Linked DNA regions of Homo sapiens: region 2 is linked to region 1. Evidence: fine-mapped expression QTL. A gene starts in region 1. The other region holds a variant in brackets. All regions are shown on one strand. Distances are between the middles of the regions. Region 1 holds the start of LCMT1-AS1 (LCMT1 antisense RNA 1). Region 2 has its middle 16 kb from the start of LINC02175.

Region 1 (5,380 bases):
CTTGGCAAGTTTCCACCCCTAGAGTCAGGCAAGGAGCCTTGCTTTTTTTTCTTTTTCTTTTTCTTTTTTTCGAGACAGACTTTCGCTCTTGTTGCCTAGGTTGGAGTGCAGTGGCACGATCTCGGCTCACTGCAACCTCTGCCTCCTGGGTTTAAGCGATTCTTCTGCCTCAGCCTCCTGAGTAGCTGGGACTACAGGCGCGCACCACCATGCCCAGCCATTTTTTGTGTTTTTAGTAGAGATGGAGTTTCACCATGTTGGCCAGGCTGGTCTTGAACTCCTGACCTCATGATCCACCCGCCTCGGCCTCCCAAATCCCGCCTCGGTGACTGGGATTACAGGTGTGAGCCACCACGCCTGGCCAGGAGAGAAGCTTAGTTTTCCATAAGAAGCTGTAGCTTTTTTTTTTTTTTTTTGGAGACAGTTTCGCTCTTGTTGCCCAGGCTGGAGTACAATAGCGCAATCTCGGCTCACCACAACCCCTGCCTTCAGGGTTCAGGCAATTCTCCTGCCTCAGCCTCCGGAGTAGCTGGGATTACAGGCATGCGCCATCATGCCTGGCTAATTTTTATTTTTAGTAGAGATGGGGTTTCACCATGTTGGTCAGGCTGGTCTCGAACTTCTGACCTCAGGTGATCCACTTGCCCCGGCCTCCCAAAGTACTGGGATTACAGGCATGAGCCACCATGCCAGCTTTTTGTTTGTTTTTTGAGACGGAGTTTTGCTCTTGTCCCCTAAGCTGGAGTTCAATGGCACGATCTCAGCTCACTGCAACCTCCACCTCCCGGGTTCAAGTGATTCTCCTGCCTCAACCTCCCTAGTAGCTGAGATTATAGGCGCCTGCCACCATGCCTGGCTAATTTTTGTATTTTTAGTAGAGACGAGGTTTCACCATGTTGGCCAGGCTGATCTCAAACTCTTGACCTCAGGTGATCCACCCACCTCGGACTCCCAAAGTGCTGGGATTACAGGTGTGAGCCACCGCGCCCAGCCCACTCTAGCTATTTTTTATAGAAGAAAGAGATACTGGAGAGCCAAAGCAACAATTGTCCATTGTAGCCTTTTGGGGAGAGATTCCATGGTGAATGCCTAACTTTTGGCCCACAATATTAATGTCCAAGAGCTTTTACACTTCCACAACTCTTCTCCTGACTTTGTCAAAAGATGCAGTCTAGTTGGCAGTGAACTTTCTCTGGCTGGGATATGGCTCAAAGACTACCCCAGCATTGTCTCTTGCATTAAGGTATCATTTAGCCTGAGATGGCTAAGCTTGCAATCTCCAGACTCCACGCTGTCATAAACTTTCAGATCCTCAACCAGGAACTTACATGGAATGAGCTGGCCCTGGAGGTCAGCTGGAAGATGGCCAAATTCCTCTGAATCACCAGCTATTTTGAATCAAAGGCTCATCCAACAACAAAAGTGTATAAACCCATCTGCCTCCGCCTTCTTCCAGTCACCCCCAGTCTCACTGTCCAGACCTGTGGGATTAACACCGTATAGTACTTGCTGTTAACACTTACTATCCACTAACACCCGTGGAATGTGGACACTGCTAAGCTGGGAGATGATGCTTGTGCAATAGTTTGTATTACCCTTTTGGCAAAGGACCACTCCAAGAAAATGGTGTATTTCATCCCATCAGCATTCCCCCTGGCAAAGCTCTCCACCCTTAGTCATTCCCCTCTTGTCATTTCTACTGTGGCTATCAATGAGATCTTGTGCCTCCATTAGAATACTGAGCTAGCATTTGATATTTGACCTCACTCCAAGGTGTGTATTCTGGGTTTCTGTTGTTGATTTTCTTTTTAAAAAAATGAGTGCAATTCAAAGTTCTTAAAGTATATCTGTTTCCTGCTTCCAACAACTGACAGATAACAAAATGGAATATACAAAGACATTTTTAATTTATAATGTATATTAAACATTATTATACATATACAACTTACAAGGGTTGCTTCTGGCTGGATTCTCTGCCAATCGCCCGAACACTGAGGATTCTGCTAGTTGTTCTGCCCTGAGTTAATTATAGCTATAAAATTTCATCACCAGCAAGAAACCAGGCGACTTCCCCAGTACATCTTGAATTTATACATATATTTTGTACTAGATTTAGTACAAAATAAATCCAAAACATCTTGAATATGCCTCATAATGAAACAGACACACGTGAACCCACTCCCACGTGAGAAACTGAGGATGTGTCTATGTGCTCCTTCCCTGCCTCTCCCTCCCCCTCTTGTGTGCTACCCTCCCGGCTCCCTAAAGATCACCAATATCCTGATTCTTTTTTATTTTTTTTTCTCATGTCTTGCCTTCTCTGTACAGTATTTTACCATATATGTACGTTTCTCTAAACAACATTAGTTTTACTTGGTTTGAACTTTACAAAAGTGTTGTTAGACTTCCTTCTTTCACTGAACATCGTGTTTCTGAGATTCAGCCATTGATGCTGCTACCTGGTAGCTCTAGTTCATTTATGATCGCTGCTACATGGCTTCCTATTGTATTACTTTTCCACACACTACTTCCCTCACTACATTTCTTTTCTTTCTTTCTTTTATTTATTTGTTTATTTATTTTTTTGAGACGGAGTCTCGCTCTGTCGCTCAGGACGGAATGCAGTGGCGCCACATGGGCTTACTGCAACCTCCGCCTCCCGGGTTCAAGCGATTCTCCTGCCTCAGCCTCCTGAGTAGCCAGGACTAAGGCGGCCGCCACCACGCCCGGCTAATTTTTGTACTTTTAGTAACAACGGTGTTTCACCATGTTGGCCAGGCTGGTCTCGAACTCCTGACCTCAGGTGATCGGCCCGCCTCGGCTTCCCACAGTGGTGGGATTACAGGAGTGAGCCACTACGCCCGCCCCCCTCACTACATTTCGAAGGCAATTTTGGGGGCAAAGCCCTCAGCACAGTCGCTGGCAGAGTCAGCACACAACAAAATTTTGTAAAATTGAATGACACTGAGCCCGGACTGAATGTAACAACTTACACATGTTGCTTCTGGCTGGATTCTCTGCCCTTTGCCCGAACGCTGAGGATTCTGCTAGCTGTTCCGCCCTGAGTTAATTATAGCTATAAAATTTCGCGACCAGCAAGCAGAAACCGGGCGACTTCTCCAGACACCTAAGACTACGCTTCCCAGAAAGGATTGCGATACTCTCCTACTGTTTAGTTTCTTTTTCCTATCGTCAAATTTCCGGGTTATGTGGGCGGTGCCAAAATAATTATCCAATGAGCAACTTCGTAGGCTGAGCGGGCAGGAGAATTGCTCAATGAGCGACTCGGAAGAGGAGCCAATAAGCGGAGAGGTTGCTGGGGTAGCCGGCGTGGGCGGCGTCACTGAGCCGCGCCAGCTGAGCCAGGTAGGGCCCTACCCTCTTCTGTTGCTTTCTCCCTGTGGCTCGCGCCGTCCCCCGCCGCCCGTCGACCCCGCTTCCATGTCCCTGGCGGACACAGCTCCCAGGAACCTCCACGCCCATGGCCACTAGGCAGAGGGAATCCTCTATCACCTCCTGCTGTTCCACCTCGAGCTGCGACGCAGACGACGAGGGCGTGCGCGGCACCTGCGAAGATGCTTCCCTGTGCAAGAGGTGCCTGTCGGGCGCGGGGTTCGGGGCCGGCATCTGGGGCGCGGGCCTAGGTGGGAGGTGGGCCTGCATCTGAAGAATACGCTCAAGGCTGGCAGGGATGCAGCCCCCGCCTCGCACGACCCTCGCTTCCCACCTGTGAAGTGCACGGAGCAGGGCTTCATTTATTTAACGAATCGTTTCTGAGCTTTTGCTGTGAGCCAGGCAGGGGGCCAGCCTGGGTATCGTCGATGGGAGCAGGCCCCTGAGCCAGACAGACGAGGCCTTGGGCTTCTTGGAGCTAAACGCTGCTGGAAAGACAGACATGAAGCAAATAGTAGCTCCAGCCTCGATGGGTTACGAGGATGAGAGGTGTAGGTTCTCTCTCTTTTGTAGGTTGCATTCTTTAGGGGGTTGGTGTGATCCCTGTTGTGCACCTGAAACTCAGGATGACGAGGGGAAATAACCCACCCAGAGCCAAGTAATATCTCTTTGCAGAGCCAGTACCGCACTAAGTCTCCACTGTTAAGGGTGTGGTGGTGGGGATGGGGGCGTAGCCAGCAGAGGTACGTGTCAGAGAAAGAGAAAGCTTGAGGCTTGAATGTCCACCATTTATTCTTTCATTCAACAAAATTTTTTGAGACCTTACTTTGTGCCAGGCCTTTACTTTGCAGTGGTTAGTAGGAATTCGATGGTGGAAATACACCAAGAACAAGACAGACATGGTGTCAGACATACTGGAACTCACAGCTTTGTTGGAAAAGAGAGACAGGAAGCAAATAATTACCTATGAAATATATAATTATGATTTTTTTGTGTTGAGTGCTGACAAATACGGCAGTGCCATTAGAGTTTGTAATTTTGTCAGTGATGTTTAAGGTGAGAAGAGTTTGGGCGCGGTGGTTCACGCCTGTAATCCCAGCACTTTGGGAGGCCGAGGTGGGCAGATCACGAGGTCAGGAGTTCGAGACCATCCTGGCCAACATGGTGAAACCCCATCTCTACTAAAAATACAAATATTAGCTGGGTGTGGTGGCGGGCGCCTGTAATCCCAGCTACTCGGGAGGCTGAGGCCGGAGAATCATTTGAACCCGGGAGGCAGAGGTTGCAGTGAGCCAAGATCACGCTATTGCACTCCAACCTGGATGAGAGTGCGAGACTATGTCTCAAAAAAAAAAAAAAAAAAAAGTGAGAAGAAAAGGCTTGAAAAATAGGAAAGTTGTAGGAGAGTGTTCAGAGGAGTGTGAACTGTTAGAGGAACTCAAAAAATGCTTTAAAGGTGGGAGAAGGAGGCTGAGGCCACGTAGTGATTGTAGAGTGGGGAAAACCAGTGTGTTGGATTAAACCTTGCACTTTTTATAGGTTCTTGGGGACTAAACTTTCAGAGCATGGATTCTGGAGCTAGACTCTGTCAAACTGAGCGTTGCCACTTACTGGCAGTATAAAGTCGGGGAAATTACTAAACTTTTCTGTGGCTCAGTTTCCTGATCTGTAAAATGGGGAGTATAATAACGCATCATAGGTGGGTGTGGACAAAAATGATATTTAATATTAGTAGAGCACTTGGAGCAGTGTCTGGCATGTAGTCCATGTAAGTGGTGATTGATTAAATTAATAAATACACAAGTATTAAAGTCTTAGAGAGAGTCCCTTATGAAATTTGTGAATTTGAGTGGATTATACTCAGCTTTTTCTTCTGTGGCTTTCAGTTGCTATTGGCCACAGCTGTCTTGGCTCCTGGTAACTTCCACCTGCCGGGTTCAAGTGATTCTCCTGCCTCAACCTTCCAAGTAGCTGGGATCACAGGCAC
Region 2 (5,380 bases), 28 kb before region 1:
GCCATTTCTATCTGGCCTAGAATGTTTAATTGAAAATCAGTCTTTTGATTCTGAGTCCCTTGGCCATAGAAGTGTCCCACTGAGAGATAGGATGGACCCAGAGCAGGCAGCCATACCACCCCAGCAATGATATGGGACAAAATAAAAGCTTGGCTATTGATGCTGCCTCTGGCATATCTTGACCAAAAGGGGCCAAACTAAAAATAAAGTCCTAAGCCCGTCATTGACTGAACAGACCCATTTGTGACCAAGGGAACCCCAGTTGCCAGGAGACAAATCTTACTTGGGGAAAAGTCTTGCCCCTTGCCCTGCTGAAGATATGAATACCCCAGAAATGGGTTGGCTCTTAGCCCCTTTGAAATACTGTACAGGAGACCATTTCTCCAGATTCCCTGATACTTGAGGATTTTTCCTCTCCAGAAAGAGAAGCTAGTTCTTATATAAAATCATTAGGAAGTATGTTAACTAGTCTCTGAGTTTGCTTCTAACAGGTTCCAATTCCTTGTGCCTCTTTATTCTTTGAAACTGGGGAACCAGGTCATGCTGAAGACCTGGCAGTCCCACCAGGCTCAAGACCAGCTGCAAGCACAATGGGTCAGCTCCTTTGCGGTGCTGCTGACCACCCACCCATCCGTCAAGTTTGCCAGTGTTACCCATGGACTCACCGTACTGGAGTAAAACTAGTCCCTCTTGGATCCCTCTAGAGGAAACACTCATGGTTGTGTGAACCCTTCTACGGCCTTAAGTTAGTATTCAAAGCCCAGCCAAAGACCTGAAATAAGAAACCATACAGAGAACACAGAACTCTGAGTCTTCTCTTGGATTTCCCAAGGGATCCACTCCATATTCTGTGGTATTTTTAAAATTTTTATTATCTATGTTATTTTTTATTTTTAGTTTTTGAGATGGAGCCTTGCTCCCATTACACAGGCTGGAGTGCAGTGGCGTGATGTCGGCTCACTGCAACCTCCACCTCCCGGGTTCAAGCGATTCTCCTTCCTCAGCCTCCCGAGTAGCTGGGATTACAGGCGTGTGCCACCACACTGGCTATTATTATTATTATTATTATTTTTTTTTTTTTTTGAGACATAGTCTTGCTCTGTTGCCAGGCTGGAGTGCAGTGGCGTGATCTTGGCTTACTACAACCTCCACCTCCTGGATTCAAGCAATTCTCCTGCCTCAGCCTCCCGAGTAGCTGGGACTACAGGCACATGCCACCATGCCCAGCTAATTTTTGTATTTTTAGTAGAGATGGAGTTTCACCATGTTGGCCAGGATGGTCTCGATCTCTTGACCTTGTGATCCACCCACCTCGGCCTCCCAAAGTGCTAGGATTACAGGTGTGAGCCACCGCATCCGGATGTTATCTATGTTATTAATCATCTTAGCATGGCTTGAAATGTTGCTCTAAAACCAAGATAAAAGGACCCATATTACCATGTTCCATCAAGCTGGATGCCAGCCAGGCACTTGTGAGTACTTCAGCTATAGGCATGACGTTTTCGTTCTTCGTCATTATCCCACAATGCCCCTTCTCAGCGTGAAGCAGTCAGAAAGATTGAGGACCAGATTCTCTGTGACTGGAGAAAGGATAAATGGCTAGAGAGTCAGTTTTGAGCTCTGCAGATCACACGGCGGTATCTATCACAACAACTCAACTCTGCTGTTGTAGCCTGAAAGCCGCCATAGATAGCACATAAACACAGGAGCCTGGCTGTGTTCCAATAAAACTTTCATGTACACTGAAATTTGAATTTCATATAATTTTCACGTGTTACCGAATATTATTATTCTTTTGGGGTTTTTTCTAGTCATTTAAAAATAACCACTCTTCTGAGCTTTCTGGCCATAAAAAATGGGCAGTGAGCTGGATTGAGCCTTCAGGTGTAGTCTGCTCCCTGGTTTAAATAAACTAAGTCTAGGGGTGGCTAGTCAAGCCCTCTGGGTTTGAATCCCACAATCCCACTTATTAGTGCTGGGGTCCTGGGCAAGTTACCTCTTGGAGTTTCACTTTCCTTATATGTAAAATGGGAGTAATAGTGGATCCTATCCGATTTGCCTGGTTTGAGAATTAGAATAGATGTAGGTGTCAACCCAGTGAGTGTCTGGGGCATAGAAAGCACCTAGCAAATATGGCTGCTACTGTTGGCTATTATGAAGGCTCAAGTAGATCCCTACAGCCTTGGAGGAACCGTTTGTGATGTGGAGGTTTGACGGTCTTGAGCTGTCTTCAGTCCACAGTTCAGTTAGATTGAATATGAGGCTGGAGGGTTTGGTGGTGCTGCCTTGCTTTCGTGCAGTTAAGTAGAACATGGTATATCCACAGAATGGCTTACT[C/G]TGCAGCCATAAAAAGGAGGTAGAGGTGTATATTTGTGTTCTGACCTGTAAAGATGCTCCACATATCTGTCTAAATGTGTACAGGTATGTGTGTATAATGCATGTACGTGTGGATATGTGTCATGTGTGCATATGTCCTTTGAAATCAGGGCTGTTCAGCCTTGGGTTGACATTTGGATCTAGAGTAGGCAGAAAAATGCTCTCCCCTCCCCAGTAATGTCCATTTCTGAATCTCCAGAACCTGTGAATGTGTTAGATTACATAGCAAAGGGGAATTAAGGTTGGAGATGGAATGAAAGTTGCTAATCAGCATAAAGGGAGATTAGCGTGGATTATCCCCACAGGCCCAGTGTAATCACAGAGGTCCTTCATAGTTGCCCAGGAAGTCCGTGAAGACACAACTTTGGAAGAAAGGCACAGCATAAATGCTGCTGGCTTTGACAAATGCAGGAAGAGGCCAAGGAACATGGGCAGACCCAAGAAGCTGGAAAAGGTGAGGAGGCAGATGCTCCCCTCACGTGTCCAGGAAGGCATTCATCAGCCCTGCTGCCACCTTGATTGTAGTGCAGGCAGATCTGGTTCGAACTTCTGATCTCCGGAAATGTGAGATAATCCATTTGTATTCTTCAAGCCATTAACTTTGTGGTGATTTGTTACAGCAACAACAGGAAACGAATCCCTTTGGAATGGGAATTGCTGTCCTATGCCTGACCCACCATCATATTTTGGAAGCACATTAATTTCCCAGGCCCATGGCGGAGAGGAATCTGCCTTAGGAGAAATCTTGCCCAAAGTCTCACCTGTATCTGATTCAAATGAGACTCTGGACTCTTGACTTGGTGCTGGAACAAATGAAAACATTAAACCTGTTGGGATGGAATGAATGTACTCTGCATGTGAGAGGACATGAATTTGGGGGGCTGGGGCAGAATGCTATGGTTTGACTGTGTTCCCCAAAGTTCATGTGTTGGAAACTTCATTCCCCATCCAGCAGTGTTGAGGGGGCGGATTTTTAAGAGGGGATGGGTCACGGGGCCCTGCCCTCATGAAAGCGTTAGTTATCGCAGGAGGGGTTCCTGATAAAAGAATAAGTACAGGCCCCTTCCCCCCTCTTCCTCTCCTGCAGGCAAGCATGCCCTCTTGCCCGTCCACCTTCCACCATGGGATGATGCAGCAAGAAGGCCCTCACCAGATGTGGGCCCCTTGACCTTGGACTTCCCAGCGTTGAGAACTGTAAGAATAAATCTTTGTTCTTTAGAAATTACCCAGTCTCAGATATTCTGTTACAGCAGCACAAAACAAAGTGAGACAGAGGGTGTAGGGCAGGAAATTTCCTCACCCAATTCAGTGAAACTGTAAATTGGTAAAAAAAGGACTTGAAAAGCCTGGCAGTGGCTATTCATAATGTGCAAACTCTGCACTAGCGATTCCTGCAAACATGCACATATACTTGTATTTGCTATAACACTGTTTAATATAAAAACATAGGCTGGGCACAGTGGCTCACACCTGTAATCCCGGCACTTTGGGAAGCTGAGGTGGGCAGACTGCTTGAGCTCAGTTCAAGACCAGCCTGGGCAACTTAAGCCCAGGAGTCTGAGGCTGCAGTGAGCTGTGATCGAGTCTCTGTACTCCAGCCTGGGCAACAGAGTGAGACCCTGTTTCAAAAGAAAACAAAACAAAACAAAAAATAAAAAGGCAAAAATCTAAGTGATTATCAGTAGGGAACAGATTAAATGGAGGGGAATTTCCCCTCTATTAAGATTAAATAGATTAAATAGAGGGGAATTTCCACAAAGGAGTACAATAAAGCAATTATAAATAACGATGCAGATCTGTATATGCTGACATGAAAAGAGCAAGTTACAAAACATGTATGTTATTCACTATTAAAATTACATAAATGTTTATATTTATAAACAAGTGGTAGAGACTCATTCATTCAACAGAAATATACTGAACTACAGGATATAGCTGTTCAGTGTGTATGTACATTTGTTCAACAGAAATATGTTGAACCAAAAAAAAAAGAAAAGAAAGAGGAGGAGATGAGTCCATGTACTCCTCAGTTTACTCATGAGCTCATTTACTGCACAAATGCAGACACTCACTACAAAAATGGCAAATATATATTTGCTACTGTTCAAAGCAAGAGCCCCTCTAAAAAGGCCTTCACTAGCTACTGGGAAGGCTACATTTGAGGCTACAATGAGCTATTAACCTGCCACTGCACTCCAGCTTGCGTAACGGGAGACCTTATTTACAAAAAAAAAAAAAAAAAAAGAAGTAAATAAACAAGACTTTAATTACATTCGGCCCTAAGCACATACAGTAAAAATTCAGTGGATGCAGGTCTCAGGTGAGGTCAGCGAAGCATTATGCTCAGCATTTGATGTCCAAATCACAAACGGATCATGAAATACTTACATGTAGAAATAACTAAGACTTGGCTGGGCGCAGTGTCTCATGCCTGTAATCCCAGCACTTTGGGAGGCCAAGGGTGGGTGGATCACGAGGTCAGGAGTTCAAGACCAGCCTGAACAATATGGTGAAACCCTGTCTCTACTAAAAAGTACAAAAATTAGCCGGGCTTGGTGGCACACGCCTGTAATCCCAGCTACTTGGGAGGCTGAGACAGGAGAATCGATTGAACCTGGGAGGCAGAGGTTGCAGTGAGCTGAGATTGCGCCATTGCACTCCAGCCTGGGCAAAAAGCGCAAAACTCCGTCTCAAAAAAATAAATAAAAAGCATATTTAATATAAAATATAGCTTTATATTGGGAAAGGCTGAAAAACTTAATTTCATAAGACAAACTAGAAAAAATAAAGCTTGACGAATATTTCCCATTTGTAAGTATTAGTCTTCTCTACAGGACAAGCTGAAACACATATTAATTTTTTAAAAGAATTAAGATTTTATTTACATGATTGATTAAAAGGGGTATGGGAATGTAGTTAAAACTAGTAAGAAGCCTTGAACTTGGGCTTAAAGTCACAGTTTAAATCTCAGCTCCACTCTTTCCTAGCGAGGTGACCTTGGGCA

Evidence for each region. PIP is the estimated chance that this variant, and not a neighbour inherited with it, causes the effect.
Region 2: its variant is fine-mapped to the expression of LCMT1-AS1 in whole blood (TOPMed, PIP 0.93).

The regions. Positions count from the first base shown.
Region 1 is chr16:25,108,403-25,113,782 of GRCh38, forward strand. LCMT1-AS1 (LCMT1 antisense RNA 1) reads right to left here and starts at 3,153. Exons shown (of 3, transcript NR_120306.1): 1 at 2,994-3,153. It overlaps LCMT1 (leucine carboxyl methyltransferase 1), which reads left to right and starts at 3,340. Exons shown (of 11, transcript NM_016309.3): 1 at 3,340-3,594. The coding sequence starts at 3,482. RefSeq lists enhancers at 2,763-3,290, 3,068-3,397, 3,488-3,647.
Region 2 is chr16:25,080,362-25,085,741 of GRCh38, forward strand. No RefSeq gene overlaps it. Among named protein-coding and RNA genes, the nearest start is that of LINC02175, 16 kb to the left of the region's middle. The variant C/G (reference allele first, on the strand shown) is at 2,338.